2 linked regions of the Homo sapiens genome follow. The protein of the gene in region 2 interacts with the protein of the main gene of each other region in a pairwise test. Each region holds a gene or a part of one and is shown on either strand. Other genes may lie near its edges. The genes, in order: NUTM1 and SAMD4A.

Evidence for each region.
Region 1: the proteins of SAMD4A (region 2) and NUTM1 interact in binary tests that used the Homo sapiens proteins (3 or more experiments, as listed by UniProt).

What each region holds. Positions count from the first base shown.
Region 1 is NC_000015.10:34,353,049-34,356,961, forward strand, and holds part of NUTM1 (NUT family member 1), read left to right. Parts: intron 1-687; coding exon 688-824; intron 825-1,397; coding exon 1,398-1,684; intron 1,685-1,972; coding exon 1,973-2,089; intron 2,090-2,439; coding exon 2,440-3,913. UniProt on the Homo sapiens protein: Plays a role in the regulation of proliferation. Regulates TERT expression by modulating SP1 binding to TERT promoter binding sites.
Region 2 is NC_000014.9:54,759,088-54,763,000, reverse strand, and holds part of SAMD4A (protein Smaug homolog 1), read right to left. Parts: intron 2,841-3,913; coding exon 2,507-2,840; intron 1-2,506. UniProt on the Homo sapiens protein: Acts as a translational repressor of SRE-containing messengers.

The sequences.
Region 1 (3,913 bases), on a different chromosome or scaffold from region 2:
CTAATTTTGTGCATTTTTAGTAGAGACGGGGTTTCACTATGTTGGCCAGGCTGGTCTCGAACTCCTGACCTCATGATCCGCCCGCCTCAGCCTCCCAAAGTGCTGGGGTTACAGGCGTGAGCCACTGCGCCTGGCCTCATTCTTTACTTTTTAAAAATTTTCTTGAGGCAGGATCTCACTCTGTTGCCCAGGCTGGAGTGCAGTGGCACTGTCATGGCTCACTGCAGCCTTCACCTCTTGAGCTCAAGCGATCCTCCCACCTCAGCCCCACAATAGCTGTGACTAGACGCGCGTCATCACTCTTGGCTAATTTTTTTGGTATCTTTTGTAGAGATGGGTTTTTGCCGTGTTACCCAGGTTGGTCTCAAACTCTTGGGCTCAAGCAATCTGCCCACCTCAGCCTCCCAAAGTGTTGGGTTTATAGGCATGAGCCACCCCACCTGGCCATTCATTTTCTTAAGCTTCCTAAGTTATGACTATAGGGGAAGGAACTATGTGCTGAGCTCCTGAAGTTTCCCTGGAAATACGATTAAGCCACCTGTGACCACCCTCCTGGGTGACATGACTTAGGCAGACTTTGCCCACCTGAGAGCACTTCCTTTCTTGGCCATGCTTGGCTGTCGTCTGGATTTCTGATGGGTCTGGTCTCCTTCTCAGCATTGCCTATGCCTTTCTCACCCTCTGCAGGTTCATGGAGTTTGAGGCTGAGGAGATGCAGATTCAGAACACACAGCTGATGAATGGGTCTCAGGGCCTGTCTCCTGCAACCCCTTTGAAACTTGATCCTCTAGGGCCCCTGGCCTCTGAGGTTTGCCAGCAGCCAGGTGAGGCTACCCAATTTTGACAGGAGCCGTGGGCCAAAGGCTCAAAGGGATGCATACAGAAGCCAGTCACAGATTAGAGAAGGCATAGCCCAGGCTCTGCCACTTTCCCTCTGGAGAGTGGCATTTGATATTCCAAACAGACCACCCCATAGGAGGCTGGGTTCTCAGGTTCCTTTTGCCCTGAACTAGGTATTGATCTTGGTGAAGTAAACTGACTACTCTCACCGAGACTCTAAATTCAGCACATAATACCTCATCTGCCTAAGAAATGGGGACTGGATTAGGGGGTTTCTTGGAATCTCAGGGATTCCAAAATTCCTCATACAGTGATTCTTAGACCCTCTAGGTCCTAAATCTCCCATGGCTGGCGCTTTTTCAGGTTGGCCCAATCCAGCCTGGAACCATTTCAATGTACCCAGATTGCTGAGCTTACAGAGCTGGGAGGCAGAAGCTGTGGTTTCTGTGCTACTTCCCATTCTCCTGTCCATCTCTTACCTTAGTGTACATTCCGAAGGAGGCAGAATCTGTGGTTTCTGTGCTACTTCCCATTCTCCTGTCCATCTCTTCCCTTAGTGTACATTCCGAAGAAGGCAGCCTCCAAGACACGGGCCCCCCGCCGGCGTCAGCGTAAAGCCCAGAGACCTCCTGCTCCTGAGGCACCCAAGGAGATCCCACCAGAAGCTGTGAAGGAGTATGTTGACATCATGGAATGGCTGGTGGGGACTCACTTGGCCACTGGGGAGTCAGATGGAAAACAAGAGGAAGAAGGGCAGCAGCAGGAGGAGGAAGGGATGTATCCAGATCCAGGTCTCCTGAGCTACATCAATGAGCTGTGTTCTCAGAAGGTCTTTGTCTCCAAGGTGAGCTGGGCCTGCACATCTTGTTTCTAGCAGATCCTTGGGGTGGGTACTCCCGGGAACTAATGATCTGGGGTTTGTCCAATGCAGTAGGACTTAGGTTTTATTCTATAACTGAGTAATGTGTGTGCATGCATCATCATGAGAATGTGTGTAGCCGGTGGTGGTCAGTTTACAATACCGGAGGGGTAAGAGGGGAGAGTTGGGGAGCTCTTAGTTTCTTCTGTAAAGCCCCTTGTTTCACAGGTTACCTGCTTACAGACTTACATCGCTTTTCCTTCTGTTATCCAGGTGGAGGCTGTCATTCACCCTCAATTTCTGGCAGATCTGCTGTCCCCAGAAAAACAGAGAGATCCCTTGGCCTTAATTGAGGAGCTAGAGCAAGAAGAAGGACTCACTCTTGCCCAGGTAAAACTGGGGTATAGGAAATATGAGAACGAGAAGCTTGCAAGATTTTATCTAACCCTACACTGTCGTGGGTGATATGGCTCTAGAGATGAACAGCTTCAGGATTGGGCTTCAGGTGCAGAACGAGTAGGTAGAGGGCTATGGAAACACAGGAAATGAGAATGTAAGGGCTCAAAGCATGGGAATAAGGCACAAGAAGGTGGGAAAGAGCTGCAGTATCTGTCTTTGCTACCATCGCTTAAACTACTTGCTTGCCTTCCTTGCCCTGCCCAAATACCGTCTTGTGCCACCCACTCAGCCACCTCTTTCACAACCACGTATAGAACTGACTATTTGTTCATTTCTTTCAGCTGGTCCAGAAGCGACTCATGGCCTTGGAAGAGGAGGAAGATGCAGAGGCGCCTCCAAGTTTCAGTGGCGCTCAGTTGGACTCAAGTCCTTCTGGTTCTGTTGAGGATGAAGATGGGGATGGGCGGCTTCGGCCCTCACCTGGGCTTCAGGGGGCTGGGGGCGCCGCTTGCCTTGGAAAGGTTTCTTCTTCAGGAAAACGGGCAAGAGAAGTGCATGGTGGGCAGGAGCAAGCCCTAGATAGCCCCAGAGGGATGCACAGGGATGGGAACACTCTGCCATCCCCCAGCAGCTGGGACCTGCAGCCAGAACTTGCAGCTCCACAGGGAACTCCGGGACCCTTGGGTGTGGAGAGGAGAGGGTCTGGGAAGGTTATAAACCAGGTATCTCTACATCAGGATGGCCATCTAGGAGGCGCTGGGCCTCCTGGGCACTGCCTGGTGGCTGATAGGACTTCAGAGGCTCTGCCCCTTTGTTGGCAGGGAGGCTTCCAGCCTGAGAGCACTCCCAGTTTGGATGCTGGACTTGCAGAGCTGGCTCCTCTGCAAGGACAAGGGTTAGAAAAGCAAGTCCTGGGATTGCAGAAAGGACAACAAACAGGGGGTCGTGGAGTGCTTCCTCAAGGGAAGGAGCCTTTAGCAGTGCCCTGGGAAGGCTCTTCAGGAGCCATGTGGGGAGATGACAGAGGTACCCCCATGGCTCAGAGTTATGATCAGAATCCTTCCCCTAGAGCAGCTGGGGAGAGGGACGATGTCTGTCTCAGCCCAGGAGTTTGGCTGAGCAGTGAGATGGATGCTGTAGGCTTGGAGCTGCCTGTACAAATAGAGGAGGTCATAGAGAGCTTCCAAGTTGAGAAGTGTGTAACTGAGTATCAGGAAGGCTGCCAGGGACTGGGCTCCAGGGGCAACATTTCCCTGGGTCCTGGAGAAACCCTAGTACCTGGGGATACGGAGAGCAGTGTGATTCCCTGTGGAGGCACAGTTGCGGCAGCTGCCCTAGAAAAGAGAAACTATTGCAGCTTGCCAGGACCTTTGAGGGCCAACAGCCCACCCTTGAGGTCCAAAGAAAATCAAGAACAGAGCTGTGAAACCGTAGGGCATCCCAGTGATCTGTGGGCAGAAGGTTGCTTCCCATTGCTAGAAAGTGGTGATTCCACACTGGGGTCTTCCAAAGAAACCCTTCCACCCACATGCCAAGGCAATCTCCTTATCATGGGGACTGAGGATGCCTCCTCCTTGCCTGAAGCCAGTCAAGAGGCAGGGAGCAGAGGCAATTCCTTTTCTCCTCTGTTGGAAACCATAGAACCTGTCAACATACTAGATGTTAAAGATGACTGTGGCCTCCAACTAAGGGTCAGCGAGGACACCTGCCCACTGAATGTTCATTCTTATGACCCCCAAGGAGAAGGCAGGGTGGATCCTGATCTGTCCAAGCCTAAAAACCTTGCTCCTTTACAAGAGAGTCAGGAGTCTTACA
Region 2 (3,913 bases):
CGCCTGTAGTCCCAATTACTCGGGAGGCTGAGGCAGGAGAATGGCATGAACCTGGGAGGTGGAGCTTGCAGTAAGCCTAGATCGCGCCACTGCACTCCAGCCTGCGTGACAGAGCGAGACTCCATCTCAAAAAAAAAAAAAAGTGAATATTCATGTGCTTATGTATGATGATGAAGTTTCTGAAAGGATATCCCAAAACTTAATAGTGACTATCCCTGGGAATGAGGATGGCAGGGTTTGGGGTTGGGGGAGGGTGGTTTTCCACTTTCCACCATGTTGTTAATTTGAATTGTGTATGCTGAGTGTTAACTGGGGTTACAGCTTCCTTTAACGTAGGTAAAATGTAAAGAAGCAGGGCCATAGCACTGTGGGTCTCTCAGGAAGTAGGGCGATGTGCCGCGTGTTCAGTAGCTGCTCCACTTGGGCTTGGCAGAGCTGTGTCTTCACCCATGGGGAAATCTGTTCTAATCCAACACAGCTAAGGGGTGGGTGGGGGAGAGCGAGGGCCCACCCTGGCCATCAAGCTCCAAGGGAAGCTGTGAGTCATCTCCTCCACCAGATTACTATGAATTTAAGTCTTTTTTTAGGACATGCCTTAAGGTGGGTGGTGGAAGGGTGGGGGTTGTTCTTACTGCAAACTTGGTTTTTTAAAATGGTCTGAAATATTGGACAATAACAGAGAAAAAATTGTTTTCCCCTTCCAAAGGAAAAGTGCTGGCATTGCCACATGTTAAAAAATAATCAAGATGTCTTGTAAGACACCCAATTAAGCATAAATTATTCTACTGGTGGACATTTTCAAGGATATGGAAATAAGGGTCTGCCCCAGAAAAGGCAGAGGGTAGCCCAGGTAGAAAGGGGCGCTCTTACCCAAAGGACCACGCTGTGGAGTCTACCCTCCCCGACAGGCGTGCACCCAGCATGTATGCTTGGATGGTCTGTGGGAAGGCCTAACTTTAGATACTGGTGTCATCCCTCAATTTTTGCACCGCCTACTTATGAGGCATCTACTGTAAGCACTGTGCTACAAAAGCAGGGTATTGAGTAGCTATTAAAAGTGGTCTGTGCTGCAGACTAATGAAGATACAGTCAAGCAAACAGGCAATCACAATCTAGTGTGAACTGGGCTAAGACAAGGAAAGTAAAGGGGGACGTGGGGCAGGTGAAAGGGGGTACCTCACCCAGCCCAGTGGATCAGCAGGCTTCCTGGAGCATGTGAGGACTTGGCTAAGACCTGGAGAAGGAGGCATGACCCAGGTGAAGGGAATGGGGTGAGGAAAAGAGTGTTATAGGCAAGGCTGTCCCATGTGGATGTGCAGGCTGTGCACTGCACAAGTGCATGCCAAGGTGAGTGCTAGCAGTGCTGTGTCCACCCAGACAGGGCACCATCTTGTAATTCACATGAAGGCTTTGTATAAACTAGTAGGGGCCTAGGTTCTAGGCAGAGGGGGAGGTGTGCACAAAGGCTCAGAAGCCAGGAAAATATGCAAACTTTTGAGAACTCAAAGATACAAAGTCTGGAGTGTAGAATGGAGGTGGTAAGGGCTGTAGAGGTAACAAGGAGGCGCCAGATGACACGTGACTCTTTAGGTTTGGATTTTGTCACCTCACAGCGGAGAGAACCATCACATGAAACTTAACCTTGTTCTATCTTGAGCTGATAAGAAGGCACAGTGGTAACCACGTGCATGATGGAGAGACTGCAGGGTTCAAATTCCAGCCCTGCCATCAGCTGTGTAAGCTCAGGTGGGCTAATTAGCCTGTGTGCCTCAGTTTCCTCCTCTGTAAAATGGGATAACTTGGGAATTAAGTAAGCTCTATAGGTAAAGCACGGAGAACTGTGTCTGCTATAGAGGAAAAGCTAAATAAGCACAAGCTATTCGTACTAGAGCATTTCACATGGCAGGCCAGCCGTGAAGAGAGAATATAAACGCAGACACGGGAGAATGAGAACAAAACAGTTCCATGCTGGGAATTCTCCAAACCATGGCCACATCTGAGAACACTTTCAGTGGTGAGGAGAGAGGCCACTGCCAAGGCTGGCATTTTTCTGCACAGGGAGATCTTTGGGCTCTGGCTAAAGGCGTCTGTGCCCCTTCAGTTTGTCACTCATTTTCTGCCGCTTTTGCTTTGGAGAGAGGGTGAGATGCTGAGTGAACGGTTTGTTCCCAAAATCATCTTTTTCGAAGTCCTTCCCACCTTCCTCCTGCAAGGGTCCACTGGCCCAATGAGCACTGTAATAAAAGGGCTGGCATCCCCTAGTCTGAGGGAGTTGGGAGAGAAAGGAGCCAGGATTAAGGAGTAGGTCTCCTGGGGTCACAGTGATTGCAGTTCAAACCCAAAAGGCTTAACCTCTCTGAACTGCACTTTCCCTATCTGTAAGATGAAGCTAATGATGTCTACTTGGACAGGGAATTTATCCAGCACCCAGGGGAAGCCCCCAGGAGCCTGTCGCTCTGGTTAGTGGTATCCAGAAGAAAAAAGAAATGGGCGAATGAGGCTCTACCTTTCCCCATGACGCGTGTGAACTGCCCGGGGAGGTCCCCCTCTGGCAGGGGGGCGACGGCCAGCTCCCCATCGCAGCTGCTCAGCTGGTGCGGCTGGAGCCCCCCGCTGGCCCCGGCCGAGGGGGTGGCCGTGGCGCCAGTGGCTGCGGCCCCATCTTTGCAGTCGGGGCTCTGGCTCTCGGGGCCCATCAGTGAGGGCTGACGCGGGGCCTGGGGCTCCCGGCGGCGAGCCTCGGGGGTGGTGCTCGGGGAGCTGTAGGCCTTGATCGGAGTCAGGATCATCTGGTGCAGTTCCTGGAGCGGGATGCGCAGGCTGCCCCCCTCGATGATGTCCTGGACGGTGAGAGCAGGAAGACCTCTGTTAGGCTCAGGAATAAGGGTCATCCACCCCCGTACCTGCCCTCCCCTGCCCTGAGCTCTTACAGGATTCGTGGCTGCTGGTACCCTCATCAGGACGTTTTTGGGAAAAGGGACCACTTTCGTTTCATCATTCTAATATTGGCCCAGGAAGAACACTTGGAAAATACAGACAGGTATAGCGAGGAAAATACACACCACCGGAAAATCCCACTATCTAGAGATGACCACGAAAACAATTTGGTATATTTCCTTTTCTGCCTTCCTCTGTGCATTTCTGTAAAATGCAGTTATACATATTACAGTCACATGCTTTAGGAGCTGTACAACAAAGTTGGGTGACATGATGGCTTTGTGTCCTGTGTATGTTCTGGATGAAATAGCTTGTTCACACCATCACTCAGTCCATGGCACACGCAGCACAGGGTAGCGATTAAGAGCAGAGACTCTGGGTCAGAGGCTGGGGTTTGGATTCTTGCACTCCCATGTGAACCTGGGCAAATGGCTTAACCAATTTGTGCCTCAGTTTCTCTGTGTACAAAATGAGCATATCGTGGCTGCCTCATTGCCTTTAGGGTTCCCCAAGGAGTTGACATCCAGCCATGAGATAACTATATCATGCCAGGGGCTGTGGTACGGGTCGGGGCTGCTATGAGGGGAAGCTCCTGGAGAGGGTGACATGGGGCAGGGACCCAAATGAGCGTGGGCATGAGGATCCTGGGGAGAAACGCTCCAGGTGGAGGGCACAGCAAGGGCAAAGGCTCTGAGGGGGGAGTCTGAGGAACAGCAAGGAGGCCTGCGATGGAGCAGGTGGGCAATGGTGTCCCGTCAGACACCTAGGCCTGAGCCTGGAGGCCTTGGGCCAGGGCAGGGATGCTGAAATCTAGTCTAAGATGGGAAACCAGGGAAGGTTTTGAGCAAGGGAGTGACAAGTTTTACAAGGATCATTCTGGAGAGGAATATGTATAGAACTGTAATATAATATATATGTCTTTATGTGTTGTATAATAAAATTGGATCATTCTGCACATATAGTTTGATATACTGGG